5 linked regions of the Homo sapiens genome follow. The protein of the gene in region 4 purifies or fractionates together with the protein of the main gene of each other region. This does not show direct contact. Each region holds a gene or a part of one and is shown on either strand. Other genes may lie near its edges. The genes, in order: SAR1B, FGFR2, STX6, FAM171B and BMPR1A.

Region 1 (6,190 bases), on a different chromosome or scaffold from region 4:
GTCTCGCTCTGTCGCCCAGGCTGGAGTGCAGTGGCGTGATCTCAGCTCACTGCAAACTCCACCTCCCAGGTTCAAGCGATTCTCCTGCCTCAACCTCCCGAGTAGCTGGTACTACAGGTGTGTGCCACCACACCAGCTAATTTTTGTATTTTTTGTAAAGATGGGGCTTTGCCATGTTGGCCAGGCTGGTCTTAAACTCCTGAGCTCGAGTGATCTGCCCACCTCAGCCTCCCAAAGTGCTAGGATTACAGGCATGAACCACTGTGCCCAGCCTTGCTACAGTTTTTTCTTTTTCTTTTTTTTTTTTTTTGAGACAGAGTCTCACTCTGTTGCCCAGGTTGGAGCGCAGTGGTGCGATCTCAGCTCACTGCAACCTTCGCCTCCTGGTTCAAGCAATTCTCCTGCCTCAGCCTCCCGAGTATCTGGGATTACAGGCATATACTATCATGCCTGGCTAATTTTTTGTATTTTTAGTAGAGATGGGGTTTCACCGTGTTGGCCAATCTGGTCTCGAACTCCTGACCTCAAATGTTCCACCTGCCTTGGACTCCCAAAGTGCTAGGATTACAGGCGTGAGCCACTGTGCCCGGCCTCCTTGCTACAGTTTCTAGGTAATATTGGTCCTTTGTTCTCTATAGTTATCTCCTTTAATTTTATTTATATAATAGTGCTTATTTGTGTTGAGCCTCTTTATATATGAAGCAATAGTTAAGAATAGTTAAGGCCGGGCGCGGTGGCTCACGCCTGTAATCCCAGCACTTTTGGAGGCCGAGGCAGGCAGATCATGAGGTCAGGAGATCAAGACCATCCTGGCTAACACGGTGAAACCCCGTCTCTACTAAAAATACAAAAAATTAGACAGGCATGGTGGCACGCGCCTGTAGTCCCAGCTACTTGGGAGGCTGAGGCAGGAGAATCGCTTGAACCCAGGAGGCGGAGGTTGTAGTGAGCCGAGATCATGCCATTGCACTCCATCCTGGGTGACAGAGCGAGACTCCGTCTCAAAAAAAAAAAAAAAAAAGAATATGGGCTTTGTAATTATACAAATATGTTCAATTACTCGATTGAACAAATATGTTCAATTACTTTTAAATTATGTAATCTTGGGCAAATTACTTTTTCGTGACACTCATAGTAGTGACAGTCATAGAAGTAGATTCCTTAATGATAAAATATATATATAGTTCTGCCCCCAAAACTAAAAGATTAGGACATCAAACAATTTACTTCTTAGACTTAAGCATGGACAAAGGAGTAAGTGTTATTTTAGTATGAATCTATTCAAAAACGGATGGCCTGAAACTATAATTGCCTAATGTCTTTAAAAGTTTGTTTATTTCAGTCAGGTGTGGTGGCTCACATGTAATTTTGTGGAGGTTAGACCATTAAACATGTAAAAAATAAAGTTTGGCTGGGCGTGTGGCTCACGCTGATAATCCCAGCACCTTGGGAGGGCAAGGTGGGCAGATCACTTGAGGCCAGCCTGGCCAACATGGTGAAACCCCATCTCTACCAAAAAATACAAAAATTAGTCAGGCGTGGTGGTGCACACCAGTAGTCTCAGCTACTCAGGAGGCTGAGGTGGGAGGATCACTTGAGCCCAGGAAGTTGAGGCTGCAGCAAGCTGTAATCATGCCACAGCACTCCAGCCTGGGCAACAGAGTAAGACACTGTCTCTAAATAAATCAATTAATTAAGTTCAATATGAAATTTAGCAGTTCAATTCCAGTCTATTATAAATTGGTCAATGCTGCCTTTTTTCTATTTATCAATTTATCTATCAATCAATACCTGATTGATACTTCTAAAATTAATCAGCATTTTGGCATTGTAGATATGTTAAGGCAAAACACATATTCTATTGACTGGGTTGAAGTTTGGTTTTATAATTATCTGAAGTCCCAAATCATGAATAGATTTATTTATTTATTTATTTATTTATTTATTTATTTATTTTTTGAGACAGAGTCTCACTTTGTCGCCCAGGCTGGAGTACAATGGCATGATCTCAGCTCACCACCGCAACTTCTGCTTCCTGGGTTCCAGTGATTCTCCTGCCTCAGCTTCCCAAGTAGCTGGGATTACAGGCATGCGCCACCACACCTGGCTAATTTTTGTATTTTCAGTAGAGACGGGGTTTCACCGTGTTGGCCAGGCTGGTGTCAAACTCCTTACCTCAGGTGATCCGCCCACCTCGGCCTCCCAAAGTGCTGGGACTACAGGTGTGAGCCACCGTGCCCGGCCATGAATAGATTTAAAATAGCTTTTTTAAAACTGAAAATAGGTTTAGAACTTCAAGCTTAATTGGGCCAAATTTAAATTCATTTGGATAATTAGTATCAGATATCACTTTGACCAATCATAGCTCTTGCTTTGCAGGATTATATAAGAAAACTGGTAAACTGGTATTTCTTGGATTGGATAATGCAGGAAAAACAACATTGCTACACATGCTAAAAGATGACAGACTTGGACAACATGTCCCAACATTACATCCCAGTAAGTATATTCCTACATACAATGTGATACTTGATCAAATGATGCTGAGTCATATGCACTAACCAAAAGTGTTTTGTTTCAGACAGGGTCTTTCTCTGTTGCCCAGGCTGCAATGCAGTGGTATGATCACAGTTCACTGCAACCTCTGTCTCCTGGGCTTAAGCCATCCTCCCGTCTCCCAAGTAGCTGGGACCACAGGCATGTGCCACCATGCCCAGTTAATTTTTATATTTTTTCAGAGACCAGGTTTCGATATGTTTCCCAGGGTGGTCTTGAACTCCTGAGCTCAAGTGATCAGCCTCTCTCAGCCTCCGAAAGTATTGGGATTACAGGCGTGAGCCACTGCACCTGGCCAAGTTTTTTGTTTGGGGGGCATTTTCTGGTAGATAAATTATGATCAGGTGATTTGACCTGTTCCTAAAATAATAAATTATAGGTGACCTCGCTCCCAGGGAGAATATTTAGATCTTGAATTAGTACTCATACCTTTTTATCAGCTAGTACTCCCTTCTCTAGCTTGAGGAATTAAAAAGTTTTTGTCTGAGGGATTGTGACATGATTGGTAAATAGTCCACCATCGCCTTGTTTACATAACCTGAATTTTTTCTTTCAGATTTTTTTTTTTTTGAGGTGGAGTCTCACTCTGTCGCCCAGGCTGGAGTGCAGTGGCACGACCTCCGCTCACTGTAAGCTCCACCTCCCGGGTTCACGCCATTCTCCTGCCTCAGCCTCCCGAGTAGCTGGGACTACAGGCACCCACCACCACGCCCGGCTAATTTTTTGTATTTTCGGTAGAGACGGGGTTTCTCCGTGTTAGCCAGGATGGTCTTGATCTCCTGACCTTGTGATCCGCCTTCCTCGGCCTCCCAAAGTGCTGGGATTACAGGTGTGAGCCACCGCGCCCAGGCTTCTTTCAGATTTTAAAGCCATATTACTTTATTTTATTTGTGTAGAGACAGGGTCTTGCTCTGTCATGTAGGTTGGAGTGCCGTGGTATGATCATAGCGCACCATTTAAACTCCCAGGTGCAAGTGATCCTCCTGCCTCTGCCTCCCAAAGTGTTGGGATTAAAGATAGGAGCCATTGCACCATGTACTATTTTAAGCACTAATTCAGTAGATACATTACAATTTTATACATGGCTGGTAACTCAATTTGTTAACCAGTTATTTTTCTAGTCTTAATAACCTCAACAATATCTAATGTACACCACAGAATTAATCTAAAGAAAACAAGGCATATATTGACACACAGGAAGTTTTAAAACAAGGGTGGGTGTGGTGGCTCATGTCTGTAATCCCAGCACTTTGGGAGGCTGAGGCAGGAGAATCACTTGAGCCCAGGAGTTTAAGACCAGCCTGGGCAACATACTGAGACTCCATCTCTACAAAAACAAAAACAAAAAATTAGTCTGGCATGGTGGCATACACCTGTAGTCCTAGGTACTTGGGAGGCTGAGGCAGGAGGATCACTTGACCCTAGGTGTTCAAGGCTTCACTGAGCTATGATTGCACCACTGCACTCCTAACCTGGGCAACAGAGTGAGACCCTGTCTCTAAAGAAACAAAAAATACCAAAAAAATTGAAAGTTTTTTTTTTTTTGAGATGGAGTCTTGCTCTGTTGCCCACGCTGGAGAGCAATGGCACGATCTCGGCTCACTGCAACCTCTGCCTTCTGAGTTCAAGCAATTCTCCTGCCTCAGCCTCCCAAGTAGCTCAGATTACAGGCATGTGCTACCACACCCAGCTAATGTTTTGTATTTTTAGTAGAGACGGGGTTTCAACATGTTGGCCAGGCTGGTCTCAAACTCCCGACCTCAGATGATCCGCCCACCTCAGTCTCCCAAAGTGCTGGGATTACAGGCATGAGCCACCACACTTGGCCAAAAATAATGTTTTTTAATAATGACTCTAATTTTTTTTTTTTCCTTTTTTGAGACAGAGTCTCACTCTGTTGCCTAGGCTGAAGTGCAGTGGCACCATCTCGGCTCCCTGCAACCTCTGCCTCCTGGGCTCAAGCAATTCTCCTGCCTCAGCCACTGGAATAGCTGGGATTACAGGCATGTGCTACCAAGCCCAGCTAATTTTTGTATTTTTAGTAGAGACCAGGTTTCGCCATGTTGGCCAGGCTGGTCTCGAACTCCTGGCCACAAGTGATCCACCTGCCTTGGCCTCCCAAAGTGTTGGGATTACAGGCGTGAGCCACCACACTTGGCTGACTCTGTAAATTATTTAATAAATTTTATTTTGCATTTAAGGTTATGTAACGAATTTGAGAATAAAGTTAATGTTAAAGTGGGTAAATTATTAGAAACAGAAACCTAATTTAACCTGTGACCTTACTTTTACAGGTGAAAATTTTATGAATCAGATAGACACAGAGTTTAAAGACAAGTTAATCTATAGATTAATTATGAAATAGTAAGTGTAGCCTTAATAATGAATATAAAATTGAGAACTGGACCAAAAAGTAGATAATACTGTAATTATTTAGTCCAGTAAATGTTCAAAGAACAAAGAATGAGGATAGAACAAAACAAAGTATTTTATCTATAAAACAATTAGTGAGGTTGGAAAAGGAAATTGACAAATCTTTTTTTTCTTTTTATTTTTTTTGAGATGGAGTCTCGCTCTGTCACCCAGGCTGGAGTGCAGTGGCACGATCTCGACTCACTGCAACCTCCGCCTCCCAAGTTCACACCATTCTCCTGCCTCAGCTTCCCGAGTAGCTGGAACTACAGGTGCCCGCCACCACGCCTGGCTAATTTTTTGTATTTTTAGTAGAGACAGGGTTTCACTGTGTTAGCCAGGATGGTCTCGATCTCCTGACCTCGTGATCTGCCCGCTTCGGCCTCCCAAAGTGCTGGGATTACAGGCGTCAGCCACTGCGCCCGGCCAACAAATCTTTTTTTTATATTAGGAGAAAAAAGTGGGGCTTGGCAAGTAAGATTCTGATATAAGAACAATTCTGTTAAAGAAAAAATGATCATGGTGAAATTGAGTAGATAAAATTGTCTGCAAAAACAGCGTAATTTCCAACCTGGCCAACATCGTGAAACCCGTTCTGTACTAAAAATACAAAAATTAGCCGGACACGGTGGCACGTGCCTGTAATTCCACCTACTCGGGAGGCAGAGACAGGAGAATTGCTTGAACCCGGGAGGCGGAGGTTGCAGTGAGCCAAGATGGCGCCACTGCATTCCAGCCTGGGCGACAGAGGGAGACTCTGTCTCGAAAAAAACAAAAAACACAGAAAAAAAACCCAACAAAAACCAGCATAACTGGAAGAGACTACAGAGTGGTCTTAAATATTAGGTGTAAGTCATTTTTTAATTTTTTGACGTTGCTCTATTTCATTTATTCAAATATTTATTGAGCACCTACTTTATGTCAGACATTGTTCTGGATACTAGGGGAAAACAGATGCTATCTCAACCTTTCCTGCAGCTCACATTCATTTCAACTCATATTTTTTAATTAATCAAAAGCATATGTGATCTATTCTGGTGTGGAAAAGAAAACATTTTTGAAAAGGAAAAAAAAGCATATGTGAAAACCTACATATATCCTATGATCTGGCAGTTCTACTCCTAGTTACTTACCCGAGAGAAATGAGAAAATACATTTACCAAAAACCTTGTACAAAAATGTTTATACTAGCTTTATTTGTTGGTGGTGAGTTATTATTATT
Region 2 (6,190 bases), on a different chromosome or scaffold from region 4:
AACTTAGCCTCTGAATAGCCAAGGCAATCCTAAGCAAAAATAACAAAGCTGGGGGCATCACATTACCTGACTTCAAACTATACTGTGGGGCTACGGTAACCAAAACAGCATGGTACTGGTATAAAAACAGGCACGTAGACCAATGGAACAGAATAGAGAGCCCAGAAATAAGGCCACACACCTACCGCACACCTACGACCATCTGATCTTCGACAAAACTGATGAAAACAAGCAATGGGGAAAAGACTCCCTATTCAATAAATGGTGCTGGGATAACTGGCTAGCCACATGCAGAAGATTGAAGCTGACCCCTTCCTTATACCATATACAAAAAATCACCTCAAGATGGAAGAAAGACTTAAATGTCAAATCCAAAACTATAAAACCCCGGAAGACAACTTAGGCAATATACCATCCTGGACATAGGAATGGGCAAAGATTTCATGACAAAGACATCAAAAGCAATTGCAACAAAAGCAAAAATTGACAAATGGGATCTAATTAAACTTAAGAGCTTCTGCACAGCAAAAGAAACTATCAACAGAGTAAATAGACAACCTACGTAATGGGATAAAATATTTGTAAACTATGCATCTAACAAAGATCTAATGTCCAGCATCTATAAGGAACTTAAATTTACAAGAGAAAAACAAATAACCACATAAAAAGTAGACAAAGGACATAGACACTTTTCAAAAGAAGACATATATACGTCCCACCAGCATATGAAAAAAAAAGCTCATCACTAGAGAAATGCAAATCAAAACCACGATGAGATACCATCTCACACAAGTCAGAATGGCTATTAATAAAACGTCAAAAAATAATAGATGCTGGTGAGATTGCAGAGAAAAGGAAACACTTATATACTGTTAGTAGGAGTGCAAATTAGCCCAATAATTGTGGAAAGCCGTGTGGCGATTACTCAAAGAGGTAAAAGCAGAACTACCATTCGACCCAGCAATCCCATTACTGGGTATATACCCAGAGGAATATAAATCATTCTACCATAAAGACACATGCACACAAATGTTCATTGCAGCACTATTCACAATAGCAAAGACATGGAATCTACCTAAATGCTCATCAGTAACAGATTGGATAAAGAAAATGTAGTACATATACAACATAGAATACTATGCAGCCATAAAAAAGAGCAAGATCATGTCTTTTGCAAGAACATGGATGGAGCTAGAGGCCATTATCCTTAGCAATAAACCAAATACAGAAAACCAAATACTGCATATTCTCATTTATAAGTGGGAGCTAAATGATGAAAACTCATGAACACAAAGAAAAGAACAACAGACACTGAGGTCTACTTGAGGGTGGAGGGTGGGTGGGAGGAGAGAGAGGAGCAGAAAAAATAGCTATTGGGTACTGGGCTTAATACCTGGGTGATGAAACAATCTGTACAACGAACCCCCATGACACGAGTTTACCTACATAACAAACCTTCACATGTACCCCCAAACCTAAAATAAAAGCTAAATTTAAAAAAAAAAAGAACTTGGCCTCAAGTTCTTGACCAAACTACACTAAGAAGGCAAGTCAGGGAGGAAGATGGTGTGGTAAAGATGGGGTATGATTAGCAACACCAAGCATTTCAATGCTAGGAAAGCTAAAAAAAGTAGAGCCATCTCTAAATCTCATGGGATACAGCAAAAATCTCTAAATCATATGGGATACAGCAAAAAGATGGAAAAAAATGCAAAACTTAAGGCTAGGACAGGTGTGGTGGCTCACACTTGTAATCCCAGCACTTTGGGAGGCCAAGGCTGCCAGGAGTTGGAGACCAGCCTGAGCAACATGGCGAAACCCCATATCTACGAAATATTTTTAAAAATTATCCAGGCCTGTAGTCCCAGCTACTCAGGAGGTTGGAGGACCCCTTCAGCCCAGGAGTCCGAGGGTACAGTGAGCCACGTTTGACAATGCAGTGAGGGTACAATTGCACCATTGTACTCCAGCCTGGGTGGCAGATCAAGACTCTGTCTCAAAAAACAAAAACAAACAAAAAACCAAAGGCTAAAATCATCTCTCAAGGAAAAAAAAATAGAGACCATAAGCATTTTGCACAGTTGCATAAAACCTACTGGATCAGAATTATCTGTGGAATAGCCTAAAAAACTTCCAAAAAATAATTTCTGAACTGCCTACAGAGATGTCCCCCTGGCGAGAATCGGACCAGTACAGTGGAGAGTAGCACACCAGCTATATTTCCTACCTAGCTTAACAGCCAGGCACCCAAAAATCAATTTCCCATGTTTTCCTTTAATGACTAAAATTCGCTTCCATGGAAATGTAAGGGTAAGCTAGATTAGAGGGAGTTTTTAACAATTACCCTGGCTAAACAAACACCTAAACAACAGTCTGCAAACTGGAAGACTAGTGGATACATTTTATTGAAACTACGAACATTAAACAAAACACTTCCAGTTTAAACACGACCCCAGTTATTTCATAGCCATGTAATTATTTGTTAAGTCTGATATTAAAAACATCTCATATTGGATTGCTGTGGTTTTGTGAATTCTCACCCTCAACTGGGTCAGAAAGACTTGAAAGGAATAAAGTCTTTACTTATGGCTTGATGCGGGGCCATTGGCATAGTAAGTGCTCTGTCTTTTAACTGGTTGAAATAAACAGACAAAACAGAAACACACACATATACCCCAAATTTGAATCAGAGAGAGCCAGTATAAAATGATACAAGTACCAGTTCTCTGGGCTTGCCAGATTTCTGCTCTATAAGTAATATTAAACATGGCTCTTGGTCTATGAATTGTGAAACACTTTATATACTAATAAAGAATGTGTACTTCATTGTGTATTTAACTGCGTAAGCCTGTATTTGGTTTAATTGACCAAGAATAAGTCCTTGTTCCAAAGCTAACTATCAAGTTACAGTCAACTCTTAAATATTAACACTCATATTGAAAAACAAAGATGCAGATAATACGAAACAGAAGATTATTTTAAATCATTCACTCTTGGTATGCGGATATATTCTTTCTTCCTTTCTTTTAACTTGCAATTAAATGCGTATGGTTAATATTATGGCATTTACAATACTTCTAACAAAGGACTTAAACCATACTGGAAAAATCTGACTTAGGGAGGTCTCTGTGTAGATCCTGTCCTCGACGTTTCTGCTACTGAACTCTGGACCAACTCACGTTGGTCCAGGAGAGCATCACCTCTCAGAAGATTGACAAAAAATTGCTACACAAACTACATTTTTTTTCAGGTTGTTACTTTTCAGAGTCACACTCTGTGGAGGGTGGGAAAGTAATTAAGGGTGTAGGGTTGAAAAGCCCTTTCATTTTAGCTCCTACTGGGTTGGTGTAAACAAAGATGCCATTAATGTCAACAATGACTTAATTAACCAGAGTAGGTGACAATGTCAGGAAGAACTTGAAAGTAAGAGTTGCCCCCTCTCAGGGTAATCAAGCTTGACTAGACTTCAAATATTTATAATGTTAATCAACAGAATAGTACTTGGCATTGAGGACTGCCCCCCTTCGAGTCAATAACCATGTTTTCACTCCTCTGCTGGTGCCCTATAACAATGAATGACCAAAAGGAAATTAACAATGAATGACCAACTGGAAAACTCATATTTAATCTGAAATATTAAAAACTAAAATCTTCTAGAGATTATTTTCTTAAGTCAATTGAGTGGGCCCAACCCCACTGCTACTATTTCAGAACGTGTCCAGAAGACAAATGATATATATGATATATGATATGACATATGATATGATACGATATTGCACAAAGCCAAGATGACTAAACATAACCTTTCCCTGAGGGGCCAAAAGAAAAGGACCCTCTAGTGTTAGGGCCCAGGCTTCTTCCTGGAACTTCTCAGTCACATTTTTCTCCTATCCAATAGACATTATCTAAACTGAGCTTCCAAATAAATTAGCAAACCAAAAAGTCTTACAAGATAAGACCTTGGTGCACAGAAGGTCAAGGTGGAACTTACTGCTAACCAAAGCTATAGTAGTTCTAATCATGGAGAACTGATGGACAGGGGCACAGGCACGCACGCACGCACGCGCACTCGCGCACACACACACACACACGCACACTCTCTCTCTCTCTCTCTCTCTTCCAATTCACCAGCACAGAGCCTAAACCTGAGCCCATTTTCAGCTGTTAAAAACTCCTTTCTCATCTATAATTCAATGACCTTCCTAATCACCTCTGACACCAAAGCGAACTCCTGCAACAGAAGAACTGGTCTTAGGGCTCAAATCAGTGGCCAGTATTAGACTAACAGATGAGGGGAAGTGGGGACCCTACAGAAAGCAAACACAGCTTCCTGGAAACACCAAGGGCCTCCTCCATCCAAAAACAACTTTCTTCTCAACTGTCTCCAAAAGCCTAGATGTTTTTTGACATTGTGGCACCTGGCACAGCCAGCCCACGGGACTGGGAAGACCCATGTTCCCAGCTCCCTGGCGACAACGGCGACAAGGCCATGCACCCGGTGCTTACTGGATGCCAGCCCCTGTGCTAATTGCTCTTTATGTCCAGGTCAAATGGAAATCTCCTAACAACCTTTTGGTGGAAGAGTCAGAAGACTTCTGAGGACATTAATATTCAATGACTATTAATGAAGAGACCCTAAAGATCATCTTCTTAAGCCCTCAGACGACAGAAAGGGAAACTGAGGCCTGGGACTTGTATACTTTTCCAAAGCCTCTTCTTTGCCAGGTTTTGCACCTTCCTCTAAGACATCTTTTCTTTTCCATCTCATAATTCTGGATGCAAATGAACTCATAGCTCATGGAAACTATAAACCCATAAAAATGCACAAAAGGACATTAACAAAATATTACCTAAAATTTCCAGAACTTCATCGACCTCCTTCCTGATCCATAAGTGCATCCACAGATCCCAGGTTGAGCAGGCCTGCTTCCAACAATACCCACATTGTTGGATGTAAATTCTTACACAAAGACTCACTCGGGGAACTTCGTCCCTTTCCACGATTTCTTCCCTCTGCCTCACCTGTCCCTCCCTGCATGTATACACAATTTTAAACTTCCTTCAAGAATTAAATACAGTAAAACAAATCCTCTGGGACCATTTTACACTTTATGTTGAAATAAACTCACAATAACGCTGCCCTGAAAAGCCAAAATGAAAAATGACAGTTTTTCCCTAACCTGGGTTGCTCCTAAAGCCCACACCGTAGGAAATCCCAGCTCAGCTTCCTCAGTTTTTGCCGAGCCACGCACTCAAGGGAAAACCAGCAATCACGGAAACATCCATTTTAATTATTAGCAAAATTAAAGACGTACAGGCATGACTTTCAGAAACCAGGAACTTTTTCCCTCTTACATGAAAGCCCTGTAAAAATGCATCACCACTGCAAATTACACTCATCCTGGTGTCCCAGCACAAATCACCAAGAGGCAGTTCCATAATCGGCCTGTAGCTGTAGCTATACAAGCCTCAGACACAAACTCCTACCAGATTCCCTTCCCAGAGACGCAGGGAGATGTCACCACACCTGTTAATTATAGAGCTGCCATCCCTCTGTGTAACGAAAAGTTCCCCAGTCTCACACGATTGCTTCAGGTGATAAGTGCTTCGGTCCTCATCCTTCAATGACAAGTGCCTGGGGTCTTCCTGGGGAGCCCATGTCTCTCAGAACTCTCATCTCAGATGGACGCAACCCTCCTTCCTAAACTGTCCTGATCCAGCTAAGGAGGCTGGGCTCTCTGTCCTCTCCCAGCCTACCCCACTGGGTAAGTGTGCTGTTCATTCACCCCACGCACGAGATGTGTTCCCAGAGCAGCTCAGCTTACCCCAGACACCACTCGGACTGCTGCGGGTTCCTAAAGCCAGGCAGGCACCAGGTGGACTCTCCACAAACAGGTTCATTAAGTGGCGATGAGTGCTGGGATCTGCCGTTTTATTCTCGGATTACCACTCGAAAAATAACTCAGCTACCAATATTCCCTACTGATGACAGATTTCAGTGCAGCACCAAGTAGAGGCTTGGCTCACGTTGTCTCCAAAGGGCTGGGAGAGAGGTTCCAAATCTGCTAAGCTGAATAATTCAGCCTCATGTAGTCCTCGTAATTGGACTTACACCTTGAAAATTAAATTTCCAAAGCTGTGACACCGGCGCATGCCCTGTGATACTTGGAGGTTCTCGGAGCTGGAGGAG
Region 3 (6,190 bases), on a different chromosome or scaffold from region 4:
AAAGTAAACCTGCATATGTATTTAAATATTGCTTCAAAAAGCTAACCTATTAGACCTTATAACATGTACCTGACAGTAGGAAACCAACAGAAGAAAAGGTGTCAAGAAACAGGGCATGTTCTAACACAAGGGAGGTGCTCTACAGTCAGGGAACATTCAGATTACCTCAAGGAGCATCTCAGTTTCTCCTTCCACCAAGCAACCCCCACCAGATAAAGAAGAGATACTGGATTTTTTAAAATTTAAAATATATTATTTCCCATGTAAAGAGTCACTGGAACATATCTTATACAGTAACTATTATGAAAATTGTTTATTCATCCTCATCCTGGTGCAAATTTGCTGAAATATTTCAGTATTGATTTAAACATAACAATTTAAAATAGATCCACACATGCCATCTTATTCTGAAGTAGTAGGTATTTTTCTATCAATGAAAGAATGTTCAGGAGAAACAGTAACTGGCTTAACTGTTGTTTTACATAAGTTCCCTATTTTGGCAAGGAAATCTTAAAAAACCAGTAAAATAAAGAAGGATTTTGTAACTGCAAAGAAAGTTATTCTACTGGGCTGGGCGCGGTGGCTCACGCCTGTAATCCCAGCACTTTGGGAGGCCGAGGCGGGCAGATCACGAGGTCAGGAGATCGAGACCATCCTGGCTAACACGGTGAAACTCCATCTCTACTAAAAATACAAAAAATTAGCTGGGCATGGTGGCGGGCGCCTGTAGTCCCAGCTACTTGGGAGGCTGAGGCAGGAGAATGGCGTGAACCTGGGAGGTAGAGCTTGCAGTGAGCCGAGATTACGCCACTGCACTCCAGCCTGGGCAACAGAGTGAGGCTCCATCTCAAAAAAAAAAAAAAAAAAAAAAAAAAACACAACGAAAGTGACTCTACTGGGAAAAAAACCAAACACGGTGGGGGATCACAAAGCCTTAACTTTTCCCAAGTTAAAGCTACAAGGAGAAGATAAAGACTGCACATACAAGTCTTCCATTCTCTGATTCTAAGGCATCACAAAAAAAAAAAATGTGCCATAAGAAAGGGATCAGCTAGGCACGGTGGCTCACGCCTATAATCTCAGCATTTTGGGAAGCTGACACGGGCGGATCACCTGAGGTCAGGAGTTCGAGACTAGCCTAGCCAACATGGTGAAACCATGTCTCTACTAAAAATACAAAAATTAGCTGGGTGTGGTGGCACGCACCTGTAATCCCAGCTACTCAGGAGGTCAAGGCATGAGAATCGCTTGAACCCAGGAGGCAGTGGAGGTTGCAGTTAGCTGAGATGGCACCACTGCACTCCAGCCTGGGTGAAAGAGTGAGACTCTGTCTCAAAAAAAAGAGAAAGGGATCTGTAAAAAATAAGAAAGGGATCTGGATGGGCATAACTATGAGACAACACCCCCAAGACAGAGTTCTAGAATTAAGTACAAATGCTTAAGCTTTAAACGCCATACATACCACTGGTCATATGAGATACTTTTGCAAGTTTCTTCATCACATTGTCCAGCCGGGACTGAGTGCTCTCCAATTCGTGAGAGAAATCTTCCAACATACTAGAGAGAAGCAGACACAGAAGGTCGCTGGTAAGCACAAAGCCTTGGCAGTGCACTTGCACTGGGTTAAAAGGACCAGGCCTCCATTTTAGCAAACAAAATAGGCAACACTGGGTTTCAGGACCTCACTCTGTTATCCAAAATCCTTGGGACAAGATAGGATTTTGATTTTGGAATTCTCAGGATTAAAAAAAGCCTAAATTACATATCCTTTGTATTAGTCGACACCACTAGGAGGACACCACCAGGAGGGTCTGGGGCAGTCCCCGTAATCAGATACTTAATATTTCTGCAGAGAAAACTATGAGGAATCACAGTTGGAGTCAGTTCAGGTAAGGTTTTTCTGTAACATGAGCTTGCGGCAAATTTAAAGAAAAAAAAAACAACGAGATTTCTTTAGAGCTTCCTAGATTTCAGAACTGCAAGACTATAGACCTGTCTATACAATAACACAAACTCAGTGGCAGTGCAATGTGGTAGAAACAATGCTATCTGAGGCAGACAACCAGGCTTTGCCACTTGTTTACATTGCTACCTTCGACAACATACTCTATAACTCTTTGGGACTGTTTCCTCACCTGTAAAATAGGGCAATCCTATCAGCTCAACTTCCCTCACAGGGCTCTTGTGAGAACCAGGTAATAAACAAAAGCACTTTATGTCAATATGAGTTAAGGAATGTACTTTAATAAAATAACCTCCTATAAGGCACTACGTGCTTTATTATAAACCCAGAAGGCCTCAGGACTAACATCCCTGATGGGGTGTGTGACAGTGTGTCTGTGCATGCACACGCGCATTTCCCCATCTGTCCTCACAGAGAAACCAGTATTTCCCACTAGGAAAACTGACTCCAGCAGGCTTACACTATTTGCTGTCCAATGTGCAGCTGGGAAAGAAAACCCCAAAATACTATTTCAGCAGTGCCTATTTCATAAGTCACTAAATATTCCAGACTTTTCAACTTTTGATTAGTAAATGATTATTCTGAGGCTAGAATGTAATATGCCAATTAGTACTAACAGTCTTACTAAAAAGGCTGTATTAACTCTGACAGCATCAATGGCAGTTAGAAACTCCTGGTCTTGATCTGTGCCCACAATAGACACCTGACAGCCTTGCAGGATTCAGGGCAACCAACTCTTCATTAAATCAACTGTTACATATATGTTGACAACTAAAATAAGTCTTTGTCCCTTACCTAAATTTTCAAATTAAAAAATATTTAACTCATTTTAGATCCTGGCAGCATCTTGGCGCTGCAGCTGGCAGGCCTATCCAGGCAGGGCCAAACTCTAAAAAGCAAGAGCTACCTTTCTGCGCTAGGTATGACTTTTCATACTGAAGACAAAACAGGCACATCATCAGGCACATCATCCGACCTTCAGTCCATGGACACTCACCAACCAAGTTGCTAGCCCAAATCTATCTCAGTACCATCCAACAAAAATATGAGTCACATATGCCATTTTACATTTTCTAGTAGCCATGTTTGTAAAAATTTCAAAAGAAACAGGTGAAATTAATTCTGTTGTATTTAGTTTAATATAGCCAAAATACTGTAATTTCAACATGTAATATAAAAATTATTAATAAGCTATTTTATATTTTTCTATATGAAGTCTTCAAAATCCAGTAAGCATTTTACCTCTGGAGCACATCTCAATTCAGACTGGCCACATAACACTTACTCAACAGCCACATGTGGCTAGTAGCTATTATACTGGATGGCACAGGTCTAAGTCCAAATCCCATGCTTTTTCCCATTTATCTGTTATTTCTATTTTTTTAGAGACAGGGTCTCCTCTGTCACCCAGGTTGGAGTACAGTGGTGCCATCATAGCTCACTGCAGCCTCAAACACCTGGGCTCAAACAATCCTCCCACCTCAGCCTCCTTCCCTAGTACTTGGGACTACAGGTGTGAACCACCATGCCCAGCGGTTTCATGCCCTTAAAAACAAACCCCTTTACTATTGTTCTAGTGAGCTGTGGAGAGGGAGTGGAGGTAGGGGTGTGTCAATGCACCATCTTTAACTGGAAGTCCCTCTGACTCTATTACCCACTGCCCAGCCAGGCTGCCTCATCAACAGAGAAGCTCAGGCCATTAGTCCTTTCCCCTCCTCAAACTGAACTTTAGGGTCAGGACCCATTTTAGATAGACATGAAACAGATTCTGGCTACTCCAGCTTCCTACCTGGTCTCCCTACCTGACTCCACTGCAGCACATCATCTAAATCACACCTGATCACACCATCACTCCTCACCTCACCTCCACTGGTCTCTCATTATGCTGAGAATAAGTAGTCGTACCTCCTTACCATGCTGACAAGGCCTTCCCTGGTTTGTTCTCTGCCTCCAGACACATGGAACCTCTCTGCTCCATGCACGTGTGCACCTCTCCATCTTCACAGGTGCATTTTCTTCCTCCTGGTCTACACACCCCACACCACCTGCCTCCACACCAACTCTCACCTCACCTGGCTAGCATCCACACATCCTTCAGATTTCAGTTAAACCCCTCTTCCTCAGGGACCTTGGGCTAAGTCAGGGCTCTCCAGGCAGCATGCACTGGCCCCATCACAGGGGCCCTCCCACTTCACTGCCATCACCTAATGACCCCTCGCCACTTACCCAATATCCGTTCTACCCTGCAAGCGGCAAACTCTTTGGCAGAGATGGGTTGTCTTGTCTGCTCTGTTCCCTTCTATATCCCTTGGCTTCCAGAAGGCCCGGTGTAGAACACGGGCCCACTAAGAATTCATAATCAATCAATGTGTCATGATAAACGTAATATCGAGACAGGAAAGTTTCTGAAATATCCTGGTGGACTGTTTTTTCATTTTTCTCTTTCAAAAGATTTACAAAATGATGTGGCAGCATTTAAGAATGCAGTTTTTGCCATCGAACTTCTGGGTGCAAAAGGGATTGTTCATAAGGAAAAACAAACTGAGGTTATGTTTTGTTTTTATTTATTTTTCTGAGAGGAAAGAGTTTTTATTAACTGGCGTTAAATTTGTAAGTTTTTTTTAAAAAAAAAAAACAAAGTTACAATAATTTAAGATTCAAAGCAAAACGTGTCTGTTCAATATAGCAGGAGAGTCATGGGATGATAAAGTCAGCTCATGTCCTATCCTCTCTGGAACAAAAATTCCCACAGGTTACAGAGGCTTCTCTGTTTCATATTCCCATTCATAACTATACTTCGAGTATCTGCTCAGAGACATCTGTGTCTGTTTTTGGAGGTGTTTAAAAATAATAACAACTTCACCTAAAGCCTGTAGTAAAATTTACGAAGTAGAATTGCTTCTTTTGGGGAGGCTAATCTGTAAAACAGAATAAAAATGCAGCTATGAATAAAATAGCTTTTGATTTTACCAGCCACGTAGCTGCCAGGCTTTTTAGGGGTGTCATAGGATGGCTCTGCCCCTCAATTTCACTGAAGCGAGAGGGGTGTCTCAATACTCACACTGCCTGTTCCTCCAGCTCCCCTCCGATGCGCTGGGACATGTTCTTCAGCACCCCGATGCTGCCAGAGACCAGCTCCAACTGCTCATCCTGCTGTTCCACGATCAACTGGTGCCAGAGAAATGGGAAATAAGCAATTAAAATCCATCTTACCTGGTTCCAAGCCCAGCACTCTAGCAGCTGCTAGTTTCTTTGCCAACTTGGGACAATTCACATTCAGAAGCAAAGCCCAGAAATCAAAGGACCAGACCGTTGCCTCTGAGAACACACTGCTCAAAAGGCTGGATTGTTAAGCTACTGATATCTCCTGCTGATCCAACTTGTGAACAGTCAGCGGGGCTTGAAACCACCAAGAGAGATTTACTCTGGTTGGCTGACGTCCAATAATGGAGCAGACAATGGTTGAAAGCACACGTGCAGATGACCATTGAGACATGGGGATGTTTGGGAGGAGGAAGCCCATTGCCAAGATCAAGGTCTCAATCCACAACAGACTGCCACAGCTTAAATACAAGAGAGTCTGGCAAATCTCTGGATGTGGGGAAACTATGCAGTCTTTCCTCTCTCTTCAAGGACAAACGAAAGGATTCCCTGTGGCAATAAGTTACCTCAAGGACAACTACTGACTGACAAATATTTACTTTTAGTTGTGTTGCATTCTTCTCACTTTCTATAGAAAAAAAATTTCCTGGGTTTAATAGCAATTTAAGTAGACAACTGGTTAAGCAGACATACTAATGTAAAGAACAAAAGAACATATAAACTACATGTATACATAAAACACAATATTTAAGAATCAATAGTTTCAATGGGTACATGCTCCTCAAATCCCCAGACACATTATCATTAGCTTGCTTTTATTAATACAGCTACATATCAAAGGCATCAACAGACATAATCAATTTCATTTTCCTTCTACCCCTTAACCTACACAAAAGCAGTCATCTTTACATATAACAAAACCAACCAATAGGCCGGGCGCGGTGGCTCATGCCTGTAATCCTAGTACTTTGGGAGGCTGAGTCAGGTGGATTGCCTGAGCTCAAGAGTTCGAGACCAGCCTGAGAAACAAGGTGAAACCCCGTCTCTACTAAAATACAAAAAAAAAATTAGCTGGGCGTGGTGGCGTGCACCTGTAGTCCCAGCTACTCAGGAGGCTGAGGCAGG
Region 4 (6,190 bases):
GCCAAGTAAATGAATGACAACAATACCAGAGCTAACCTAGTCAGACAGAACATTGAAAGAGAATCAAGTTCAATATTTATATACTTGGGGGAAGAGCTTTGTTTCAGAAAAATAATTGGTACAGTTTCTACTTACTCACATTAAGAACACTATAAAACTGCTACTAAAACAAACTGGACTCAAATTCAACACAATGGCATATGTTTTTCAACCTGTTATCAATACCAAGAAATAACTCCTTTTGGTTATTAAAATCCTGGAAAGAAATCATAATTACCCCATCTGGGAATATGGCCTTTGAGGCATGATTACTTGGTTAATTTCAAATCCCACTTTTCCTATTGATTTTTCAAATTCCTTGAACAGAAAAAAGTAAGTAAATAAGTGCTTTCATGGATGGGAGATTTAAGTGGCTACAAAGGGCAAGAGAAAATGGTGAGATGTAGGACAAAAAGTACAAAGTAGCAGATATGTAAGATGAGTAAGTCTAAAGACCTAAGGTACAGCATGAGGACTATAGTTAGAATATTGTACTGTATACTGGAAATTTGGTGAGAGTAGGTTTTGGTGTTGTTACCACACCAAAAAAGGTAACTACATAAGAGGATGGATATGTTAATTTGTTTGACTATAGTTAACTATTTCACTATGTATAAGCCTATTAAAATATCATGTTGTTATAATATAATATGTACAATTTAAAAATAAAGTTAGCCAGGTGCAGTAGCTCACATCTGTAATCCTAGCATTTTGGGAGGCTGAGGTGGGCAGATCACCTGAGGTCAGGAGTTTGAGAACAGCTTGGTCAACATGGTGAAACCCCGTCTCTACTAAAAAAAAATACAAAACTTAGCCAGGCATGGTGGCAGGCACTTGTAATCCCAGCTACTTAGGAGATTAAGGCAGGAGAATCACTTGAGCCTGGGACGCAGAGGTTGCAGAGTGCTGAGATTGTGCCACTACACTCCAGTCTGGGCAACAGAGCAAGAGTCCGTATGAAAAAAAAAAGTTAAAGAGAAGTTTAAATTATTTTAAGAAAAAGTATACAGTAATACTACACATTAAATTTCATTATTTTTAAAGTAATCATCTTAAGAGAGGTAAGTTCCTGCTACATAGAATATTGGGGAACAAAAACATTTTTCACCGCAAAAGTGTATCAGTTGGCCAAGCAATTCCACTCCTAGGCATTTATCCAACAGATATGAAAACATATTCACACAAAGATTTGTATAAGAATATAGCAGCTTCATTCAGAATAGCTAAAACTGGAAACAACCCAAATACCCCTCAACAGAAGAATCAATAAACTGATCTGTGGTAATTCATACAATTTATTCAGCAATAAAAAGGAATAAACTACTAAATGTGCTACAAAATGAATAAAATCTGTGGAAATTATACTAAGCTGAAGAAGCTGGACACACGCCATGGATTCCATTTTGTGAAGTTCTATAAAATGCAAAATTAATCTATGATGAAAATGAAATCAACACATCAGATGTCTCCAGGTGAGGGACAGGAATTGCCTGGGAAGGGGCTATGAAGAAACTTTCTAAGGTGATATAAACATCTATATCTCAATAGGGTGATGTTTATATGGGTATATCTTTTTGTCAAGAGTGTACACTAAAATATGTACATTTCACATATGTACATTTTACCTCTAAAAGGACCTATTAAGAAAAAAAAAACAAAACTCAGTCCATACTACCCGAAGCAGTTTACAGATTCAATGGAATCTCTATCAAAATACCAATGGCATACTTCACAGAAATAGAAAAAAATAACCTAAAATTTACATGGAACCACAAAAGGCTCCAAATAGCCAAAGCCACCCTGAGCTAAAAAAAAAACAACAAAATTGGAGAAATCAAATTACCTGACTTGACATTATACTGCAGAGCCATAGTAACCAAAACAGCATTGTAACTGGCATAAAAACAGACAAAGAGACCAATGGAACAGAATAGAGAACCCAAAAATAAATCTATTCATCTACAGTGAACTCATTTTCAACCAAGTTGCCAAGAACATACATTAGGGGAAGGACAGTCTATTCAATAAATAGTGCTGGGAAAACTGGATATCCTTATGCAGAAGAATAAAACTAGACCCCTATCCCTCACCATATACAAAAATCAAATCAAAATGGATTAAAGATTTAAATCTAAGACCTCAAACTATGAAACTACCACAAAAAAACACTGGGGAAATTTTCCAGGACATTGGTCTGCACAAAGATTTATTGAGTAATACCCTACAAGCACAGGCAACCAAAGCAAAAATGGTTAAATGGGATCACATCAAAAGCATCTGCAGAGCAAAGGAAACAATCAACAAAGTGAAGAGATAACCCATAGAATGGGAGAAAGTATCTGCCAACTATCCATCTGACAAGGGATTAATAACCAGAATATATAAGGAACTCAAACAATTCAATAGGCAAAAAAACCCAATAATCCTATTTAAAAGTAGGCAAAAGATCTGCATAGATATTTCTCAAAAGAAAACACACAAATGGCAAACAGGTATATGAAAAGGTCTCAACATCACTGATCATCAGAGAAATGCAAATCAAAACTACAATGAGATCTCATCTCATCCCAGTTAAAATGGCTTTTATCCAAAGACAGGCAATAAGAAATGCTGATGAGGATGTGGAGAAAAAGAAACCCTTGTACACCACTGGTGGGAATGTAAATTAGTACAACCACTATGGAGAACAGTAGGAGGTTCCTCAAAAAACTAAAAATAGAGGTACCATATGATCCAGCAATACAGCTGTTAGGTATATACCCAAAAGAAAGTAAATCAGTATATTGAAGGGATATCTGTACTGCCATGTTTATTGCAGCACTATTCACAATCGCCAATATTTGGAAGCAACCTAAGTGTCCATTAACAGATAGTGGATAAAGCAAATGTGATACATATACACAATGGAGTACTATTCAACCATTAACAAGGATCAGATCCTCTCATTTGCAACAACATGAATGGAACAGGAGGACATTAAGTAAAATAAGCCAGGCACAGACAAACTTTGCATATTCTCACTCATTTGTGGGAACTAAAATGTAAAACCATTAAACTCACGGAGATAGAGATTAGAATGATGGTTACCAGAGTCTGGGAAGGGTATTGGGAGTGGGGAAGAAGTGGGGATGGTCAATGAGTATAAAAATATAGTCAGGTAGAACGAATAAGATCTACTACTTGATAGCACAACAGGGTAAATATAGTAAACAATAACTTATTGTACATTTTAACATAACTGAAAGTATAACTGGAATGTTTGTAACACAAATGATAAATGTTTACCCTGATGTGATAATTATACATTTTATGCCTGTATCAAAATATCTCATGTAGCCCATAAATATATACACCTACTGTGTTCCCATAAAAATTAAAAATTAAAAACAAATCCCACGTAGTGGAAACAGGTAGAAGTATGGGTGAAAAAACAATGGCAGAATTTTGACCATTGTTAAAGCTAGGTGACAGGTATAGGCTTTTATTACACTATCCTGTTTACTTTCTATATATTTAACATCTTGCGAAATAAAAAGTTTAAAAATAGATATCACTGAAATATGCAATCAAAAATTTTCACACCATGAAAATATACCTCTCAAGAAGCTTTCTCTGTACTGAAAAGACATTTCTATGATCCCTGGAGATCCCCTGTGTCTCTGCTTCACATGGAGAATTTTAAATGGAGCTCATTATTTTTCTCCAGCTCCTCTCTCCCCCAACCCCAGCATGCCTCCCATCTAATGGGCCATCAGAATTAATATAATATGGTTGTCCCAACTACCACTAGCTCCCAGATTAATTCTTCTCAGGACCCTCAAATATTTCTAACAAATACTGGTACAGATGGAGAAATAAGAGCTGTTGTATACACTGGAGAAAACAATTGATTTGATGGATACCAACCTTAGTCTTTATTTTCACTGCTCTCTGAAGATGGAGTTTTTATAAGTTAATGAGAAAATGGAAATGTACTTTTTTAAATCCTGATTTTTAAAAAATGTTCACATTCAAGTTTTTTTTTAATCTTGCTTTCTTGTTTCTCAGCAATACAAAGAGACATAAATTTTTAGAATAATAAAATCCAGAGAATACTAAGCAAAGGCAATGGTGAGTTTCTCTACTATGGACTGATAAGGCTTAGTCATATATCAGTCATTGAATGTGTCATATTTGTTTTCTAAATTTTGCCTGAGAAAAGTCCTACAGTTTTTCATGTGGCATGTCCAAAGAATCAGAAGCATCATACAGCGGTAAAGAATGAATGCAAGCTCAATCACAGCTATTTAAAGGTATATATGTTAAAATCCTCCTAGGTCATAAGAAGATTAAGTATACTCAGGTAAAGAATTATGGTTCATGCTTGTAAACCAACATTTTGGGAGGCTGAGATGGGAGGATTGCTTGAGCCCAGAGTTCCAGAGTTTGAGGCTAGCCTGAGCAACAAAGCAGGACCCTATCTCTACAAAAAGAAAAAAATTAAAAATTAGCTGGGCCCAGCGGCACGCATCTGTAGTTCAGCTATTCAGGAGGCTGTGCCCAGGAGGTTGAGACTGACTTGAGCCATGATCACGCCACTGCACTCAACCCTGTCTCAAAAAAAACCCCAAATTCTTCACAAAACCCAATAAGTAGGCCCAAGTATAGGTATCAATCAGTTTTCTGTAGTCAGCATAAGATAAACACTGAAATTAACTAAAATTAAAGATCCAAAATTTACATACTTTATAACTTCTACTTACAAACTTTCCTACATAACGTTTATCTTTATAAATCCCCTGCTAAACTCCAATGGAGAATTTATCCAATGAAGACGAACAAATGCTGAGAAAGTGAATTCATTCATTCATTCATCCATCCATCCATCCATCCATCCATCCATCCATCCGTCCATCCATTCAACAAATGGTTGAATGTCTATGGGTACCAACCAGGTGCTCTTCGAGATACTAGAAATATAGCAGTGAACAAAACAAAGTCCATGTTTTCACAGAGCTTATGTTCTATCAAGGGAAAAACAGGCTTATTAGAACAGCTGAGAATAATGAGTACCATGGAGGAGAATGAATCTGGGTAAGAGCAAAAAGGATGTGCAGATTACTATTTTAAACACCTGGTCAGGAAAAGGTCTGTCAGTTACTGAGACACTTGAGCAAACCTGAAAAATGTGAAGTTCCAGAATTCCAGGCAGAGAAAATGGCAAGTGCAAAGGCCAAACACTTGGGTCCACTTGCAAGCTAAAGAAAATAGAGCTAGTGTGGCTACAGTGGAGAGAGTTAGGGTAAGGGCTAAAGGAGACGGGAGGAAAAGGAGGATACAAAGGATCTAGACCTTGGTAGGCCATTTTCACGATCTGGGCATCTAGTATGAGAGAGACGGGAAGCCATTGGAGGAGTGTGGGCAGAAATGATCCTATTTAATGTTTTTTTTTTTTTTAAAGATCGCTAGCTGTGTGAGGAGAACAGACAGTAGGGAAACAAAGGTTGAAACAGGAAGACCAGTTCAATGGAGAGATCACAATGCATTCAAAGGAATATTTTAACTTCATTTGTCTATAAGCTGTGTTGCATTATAAGACTCAATATTCCAATAACTAAAACAGCAATCAATTGAATTACTCCCTTGTTTGCCACTGGCTTGGGTAATTAGAGTTTTTGAGGAAGAAGAATCATCATAGGTTACTTCTCAGGTTCTAGTTTGATCTATCGAAGAGTGTGGTTCCTTTATCTCAATCTAATAGGTAAATAAAACAAAAACTGCTAATTTCCCAGACAATCAGCTTTTTCAGAATATTCCCTCACAAATATCAGAAAGCAAACATTTTAATTTGCATGCTGGATTCAGGTTTCATATTATTGCAGTAGTTCATAACCCTAATCACAACATATATATATATATTACAGTAGTCAAAATTCATTTAATATTCCTGAAAGGTCCATTGAAATAAAAATATACTGCAAACCATAAAACCCACCAACACTCTCCCAGACTTCGGCTTCATAGTGAATTTATGAAATATCTCTATTAATGAGGCCAATCAATCTGATATATCCAATTTCCTTAACTTTAGCGAACAGTATGTCTAACAGCAGCCTCACCCAAACCATATTATCACTTTCAGTTATTAAAAGCTGGGTAGGAAAACCACCAT
Region 5 (6,190 bases), on a different chromosome or scaffold from region 4:
GGTTATAGGTTATAGAATTACAGGTTATAGGTTATAGACCTCGTATCGAGAACTCCTTGTATGGTCTAGCAAAGAGCCTAAAACAGCATTGAGAATTTTTTTTCTTTCTTTTTGAGACGGAGTCTTGCTATGTTTCCCAGGCTGGAGTGCAGTGGTGCGATCTGGGCTCACTGCAACCTCCGCCTCCTGGGTTCAAGTGATTATCCTGGCTCAGCTTCCCGAGTAGCTGGGTTTAACAGGCGCCCGCCAATACGCCTGGCTCCTTTTTGTATTTTTAGTAGAGACAGGGTTTTGCCTCGTGGGCCAGGCTGGTCTCAACTCCTGACCTCAGGTGATCCTTCCGCCTTGGCCTCCCAAAGTTCTGGGATTACAGGTGTGAGCCACTGCGCCTGGCCAGTCTTGAGAAATTTCAACTTAAGGCCTGGGTAGAGAAGATAGACATTAAATAATTATCTAGTTGTAGTTATGTTAAGATCTACAAAAAGGAAGTCCAGGGAATGTTACAAGACTGATAAGGGAAGCTGGGCTGTTCAGGATGCGGGTACTTTGGAAGGCTTTCCTGAGAAAGGTAGCCCGCAGAGTGAGACCTTAGGCAAGAAAGGACAAGGAGACTGTTTTTGGAAGTATTCAGTAGTATTTATTTATTTATTTGAGACGGAGTCTCACTCTGTCGCCCAGGCTGGAGTGCAGTGGCGTGATCTTGGCTCACTGCAACCTCTACCTCCCGGGTTAAGCGATTCTCATGCCTCAGCCTCCCAAGTAGTTGGGGTCACAAGCGTGAGCCACCACGCCTGGCTAATTTTTGTATTTTTAGTAGAGACGGGGTTTCGCTGTGTTGGTCAGGCTGATCTCGAACTCCTGACCTCGTGATCCGCCCACCTCGGCCTCCCAAAGTGCTGGGATTACAGGCATGAGCCACTGCGCCCGGCCAGAAGTATTCGGTAAAGTGAGCAGTTTTTGCAGCTTTTTAAAAATTTTAAAGGCAATACATCTATTGTGGGTAATTTGGGAAGTATAAAAAGCCATAAAGAAGCAGCGGAATGATTAAGTTTCAGCTTCTAATTTTTTATAAATAATGTCTGATACTGGTTTTACTACTGAGTACCTATTCAATCACGGATGCCACACTAACCCAATCCGAATCTTCGTTTCTTTATCTTAAAAAATAGAAGGAACATGGTGAACTTTAAGATAATTTTTCTGCTTAAAAAAAGAAAAAGAAAGAAAATATCTTGACTTGCAGCACAGTTAGCTGCCGAAATTGAAGGTCATATAATGCTTTTGGTCCTAATGACATCACTGGACTTCTGACTTTTGGCTGAAGAATCACGCCAGCCTTGGCAGTCCTTGCAAGTACCAAAGGGAGTATGGCTTATGCCTGCGGTGCCCTTCCCGTATCCTGCTTTCTTACCTCCTTTTTTGAGCATTAATTTTTTTTTCTTTAGCCTTTGGGTAAAGTATCAAAATGTTGAGAAGATAGACTCTCAATTTTGAAGGTGAGAAATCTGTAGGAGACTTGGATAGTTGTTTTTTTTTTTTTTTTTTTGAGACGGAGTCTCGCTCTGTCGCCCAGGCTGGAGTGCAGTGGCGCATGTTGGCTCACTGCAAGCTCTGCCTCCCGGGTTCACGCCATTCTCCTGCCTCAGCCTCCTGAGTAGCTGGGACCACAGGAGCCCGCCACCACGCCTAGCTAATTTTTTCTATTTTTTAGTAGAGACAGGGTTTCACCGTGTTAGCCAGGATGGTCTCAATCTCCTGACCTCGTGATCCTCCCGCCTCAGCCTCCCAAAGTGCTGGGATTACAGGCGTGAGCCACCACATCTGGCTGACTTGGATAGTTTTGATACTGTTTTATGTATATTAAGATTTGTAGGTAGTTTTCTTACTAGTAATTAAAATGCTTTGTAATGTATTTCAAGAGTATAGGGTCTTGAGTGTTTTAAATTTGTATATAAGAATGTTTTAGATTCCTGGCTAAAAGAAGCTCTTGTTAGAAAATATTAAAGTAAAGGCTGTTAAATTTTGGTGAGGCTCTTAATGTCTGCATTTTTCAAGAATCATTTAAAAATGTCATGAAATAAAAATATTTCAGTGGTAACTGTTCAGAAGTATCTTAAATGTATACCAAATCAATGAAATATAATCGCTGGGTGACAGATTATTCTTCCTTCATTTTATAATCTTTTATTTAATAAAAATGTGGGGGAAAAATTGCATGTTGAAGTTGTACGTGTATATTTTAGCAAAAACTGTTAATCTTTCTGAAGTACTGCTTTGGTCATCATCCCTATTTGTTAAATATTTTTCCCTGTTTTCTTATTTGCTTACAATAGAAAATCCAGAATATCTTGGACTGGTCTCCTGCTCTGGCCAAGTCAGCCTTTTCTGCTTTGCTTCCTTTCCTACTATTTTATCAGCCTAAGTCACGTAAATATCCGATTCAGGTTTGGGTTCAGAATCCTTAGACCTCTACTGTCCACTACAATAGATAGCCACTACCACATGTGGCTGTTGAAGACTTGAACTGTGGCTAGTCTAAGTGTGAATTACGTACCAGATTTTGAAGATAGTACCAAAAGATGTAAAATATCTCATTATGCTTTTAAAATATTGGTTATATAGTGAGATGATACTGTTAGGGATACATTGGATTAAAGAAATATATTAAAACTGATTTTGGCCGGGCATGGTGGCTCATGCCTGTAATCCCAGCACTGTGGGAGGATTGCTTGAGCCCAGCAGCTTGAGACCAGCCTGGGTAACGTGGTGAGACCTTGTCTCAGTTAAAAAAACAAAACTGATTTCACAGGATTCTTTTTACTTTTTAAATGTGGCAACTAGAAAGTTTAAAATTACACGTCATATTGGACAGTACTGCCTTTGACTTTCCTTTCCCTGGTTCTTTGCCCATCAGAATGCTTTAAAATCTAGTATAAATCCTTGGCCAGGTGCTGTGGCTCACGCCTGTAATCCCAGCACTTTGGGAGGCCGAGGCGGGAGGATCACGAGGTCAGGAACTCGAGACCAGCCTGACCAACATGGTGAAACCCCATCTCCACTAAAAATACAAAAATTAGCCGGGTGTGGTGGCACGCCTGTAATCCCAGGTACTCAGGAGGCTAAGACAGGAGAATCACTTGAACCTGGGAGGTGGAGGTTGCAGTGAGCCGAGATTGCACCATTGCACTCCAGCCTGGGCGACAGAGTAAGACTCTGTCTCAAAAAAAAAAAAAAAAAAAAAAGAATATTCCTCTCTCTCCTATGAAGCCCTCCTCAGTGGTCCAAGCCTCATAGTTGGCTCTTTGCTGCATCATTATTTGAAGATAATCTTTTGGTATATTAGATTTCTTTACTACAAACCTTCTCAGAACTTTTAATATGCTAATACACATGGTGAAACTCTAGTATAGTTTCCCTAACTACGTATTACCATAGAACTGTGTGTTTTCTGTTAACAGAAGTTACACATATTTGTGGTTGAAATTTCAAACAATACAGAAATGAAGTAATGAAAGTCTTCTGTAATCATGCTTCACCTGTGCCCCAAGATTGCCACTGTTGAAAGTATAGAGCTAGAAAAAATTTTCTTTTCTGTTGCCTTCTTTCTTTTTTTCTGTCCCCATTTCCTAAAATGGGGTCATACGATACATCCTTATCTTTAAATTTATTTTCACTGAATATATAGGGGGATTCTTTTTATGTCAGTAAATTTCAATTTCCTCATTCTTTTTTTTTTTTTTGAGGGAAGGTCTTGTTCTGTTGCCCAGGCTGCAGTGGTGCTGTGGTGCAAACAGCTCACTGCAGCATCCAACTCCTGGGCTCAAGCAATCCTCCCATCTCAGCCTCCTGAATAGCTGGGACCAGAGGTGCATGCTACCATGCCCAGCTAATTAAAAAATTTTTGTGTGTGTGGAGGTGGGATCTCACCATGATGCCTAGGCTGGTCTCGAACTCCTGGGCTAAAGTGATCCTCCCACCTAGGCCTCCCAAAGTGCTGAGATTACAGGTGTGAGGTGTTGTGCGCAGCCTTAATCATCTCATTCTTTATAGTAGTTAAGCAGTTATTCCATTTTCTGATTATACCTTAATTTTACTTACCAGTTTCGTGTTAATGAATAATTAGATTATTTCCATTTTTTTCTTTTGCATTGCAAATATGCTGTGGTGTTTGTACATATCCTTTGAGACTGTTTTTATTTTATGAAATGAATTCTTAGAAATGCATTTACTATAAGAGAAGCCGTGCAGATTGGATGGAAAGTGCCAAGCCACCCTGCAAAATCTTCGTAACCATTCATATTCCAGCCAACAGTATTTGAATATGTTCTCTCCTCCCAACATAATCATATCAGTCTTTTTTTTTTTTTTTTGAGACGGAGTCTCGCTCTTTCACCCAGGCGGGAGTGCAGTGGCGCTATCTCTGCTCACAGCAAGCTCCGCCTCCTGGGTTCATGCCATTCTCCTGCCTCAGCCTCCCGAGTACAGGCGCCCGCCATCACACCTGGCTAATTTTTTTTTGTATTTTTAGTGGAGACGGGGTTTCACCGTGTTAGCCAGGATGGTTTTTTTTTTTTTTTTGGAGACCGAGTCTTGCTCTGCTGCCAGGCTGGAGTGCAGTGGTGCCATCCTGGCTCACTGCAGCCTCTGCCTCCCGGATTCAAGTGATTCTCCTGACTCAGCCTCCGGAGTAGCTCAGACAACAGGTGCACGTCACCATGTCCAGCTAATTTTTGTATTTTTAGTAGAGACAGGGTTTCACCATGTTGGTCAGGATGGTCTTGATCTCGTGACCTCGTGATCCGCCCGCCTTGGCCTCCCAAAGTGCTGGGATTACAGGCGTGAGGCACCACGCCCGGCCATATCAGTCTGTTTTTATCTTTGCCAGTTTGCCAGCTGAAAAAACATTCATGATATAAGGTTTCTTTGCTGTTGTATGAATATTAAAAAACAAAAAATTTTAAGTTTCATTTGTCTTATACTCTCAACTTGTTATACGCTCCTTTGATTTTTGTGCTAAAATATTTCGTATTGCTAACAGTACACATGCATGCTTTGTACAAAGTAAATGTTCAGATATTTGTATCTGTTCATGGCAAAGGCGTCCAGAATATGCTACTGCAACATAAAAATTATTTGGAAACCTGGTGGCTCATGCTTGTAATCCCAGCACTTTGGGTGGCGGAGGCAGGAGGATCACTTGAGCCTAGGAGCTCTAGACCAGCCTGGGCAATATGTTGAGACTCTGTCTCTACAAAAATTTAAAAATCAATGAGATGTGGTGGTATGCACTTGTAGTCTCAGCAACTCAGGAAGCTGAGGTGGGGGGATCGCTTGAGCCCAGGAGTTCGAGACTGCAGTGAGCCATGATCTTACACTGCACTCCAGCCTGAGTGACAAAGCAAGACCCTGTCTCAAACAAACAAAACATATATTTTAATCTGGAAACATTTGAGAATAGCTTTTTTTTCCTCCTGAACTCCCTTGTCTGCCTAAAACTAGATCCTCCCCCAAAGAACTCAATTGTCATAACTTCCAGTTGTCATAAATCCCTTCCTTGGGAGTTTTGCAAGCAGGGAAGATGGTCTCTTGTCGCTGGAGAGAATTTGGCACCACACCTAAACAGACATTGTTATAAACTATCCTATGTCCAACTGTTGTCCTAAGGGTCCATTTGTCTTTCCTACATGTTACTTGTTTTCCTGCAACAGCCCATTGTTCTTTTCTAGTTCCAGTTCCCCTAGTAAGATGGTACACATGCCCCAAATTCGGACAGCCCCCTTGGGTCACATTTTTCTGTGAATTATTCTACATATGTGAATCAAATCTGTCATTTCTCTTGCAGATGTGTTCTTTGTCAGTTTAATTTATCAGACCTCAATTACTGAACCTAAGAGGGTGTAGGAAGTTTTTCTTCTCTGACAATGGCCAAATTGATATTTTTCTGGCTGTAAGGGCAAGGGATAATAATAAAGTAACGTTTTTCTAAGAATAAATATAAATATCTTAAATATAAAGAGCGTGAGTAAAGTTTCTTTAAAGTACATTAAAAAAACTGTTATCCAAAATGAAACATTTGTTAAAAGAAGTGGATTATGCTATTAAAGATGTGCCCCCCACCCCCATGTGTTTGTTCCTATCGTAGTAATGCTGATTGTTAATGGATGGCATAGTAACTTTAATTGTGTTCACA

Evidence for each region.
Region 1: the proteins of FAM171B (region 4) and SAR1B purify together in Homo sapiens (affinity purification with mass spectrometry; one large-scale study listed by BioGRID and IntAct). This does not show direct contact.
Region 2: the proteins of FAM171B (region 4) and FGFR2 purify together in Homo sapiens (affinity purification with mass spectrometry; 2 studies listed by BioGRID and IntAct, with this or other methods). This does not show direct contact.
Region 3: the proteins of FAM171B (region 4) and STX6 purify together in Homo sapiens (affinity purification with mass spectrometry; 2 studies listed by BioGRID and IntAct, with this or other methods). This does not show direct contact.
Region 5: the proteins of FAM171B (region 4) and BMPR1A purify together in Homo sapiens (affinity purification with mass spectrometry; 2 studies listed by BioGRID and IntAct, with this or other methods). This does not show direct contact.

Annotation. Positions count from the first base shown.
Region 1 is NC_000005.10:134,617,242-134,623,431, reverse strand, and holds part of SAR1B (small COPII coat GTPase SAR1B), read left to right. Parts: intron 1-2,379; coding exon 2,380-2,499; intron 2,500-6,190. UniProt on the Homo sapiens protein: Small GTPase that cycles between an active GTP-bound and an inactive GDP-bound state and mainly functions in vesicle-mediated endoplasmic reticulum (ER) to Golgi transport.
Region 2 is NC_000010.11:121,586,916-121,593,105, forward strand, and holds part of FGFR2 (fibroblast growth factor receptor 2 isoform 1 precursor), read right to left. Parts: intron 1-6,190. UniProt on the Homo sapiens protein: Tyrosine-protein kinase that acts as a cell-surface receptor for fibroblast growth factors and plays an essential role in the regulation of cell proliferation, differentiation, migration and apoptosis, and in the regulation of embryonic development.
Region 3 is NC_000001.11:180,983,215-180,989,404, forward strand, and holds part of STX6 (syntaxin-6), read right to left. Parts: intron 5,132-6,190; coding exon 5,025-5,131; intron 1,558-5,024; coding exon 1,463-1,557; intron 1-1,462. UniProt on the Homo sapiens protein: SNARE promoting movement of transport vesicles to target membranes. Targets endosomes to the trans-Golgi network, and may therefore function in retrograde trafficking.
Region 4 is NC_000002.12:186,695,743-186,701,932, reverse strand, and holds part of FAM171B (protein FAM171B precursor), read right to left. Parts: intron 1-6,190.
Region 5 is NC_000010.11:86,762,264-86,768,453, forward strand, and holds part of BMPR1A (bone morphogenetic protein receptor type-1A isoform 3 precursor), read left to right. Parts: intron 1-6,190. UniProt on the Homo sapiens protein: On ligand binding, forms a receptor complex consisting of two type II and two type I transmembrane serine/threonine kinases.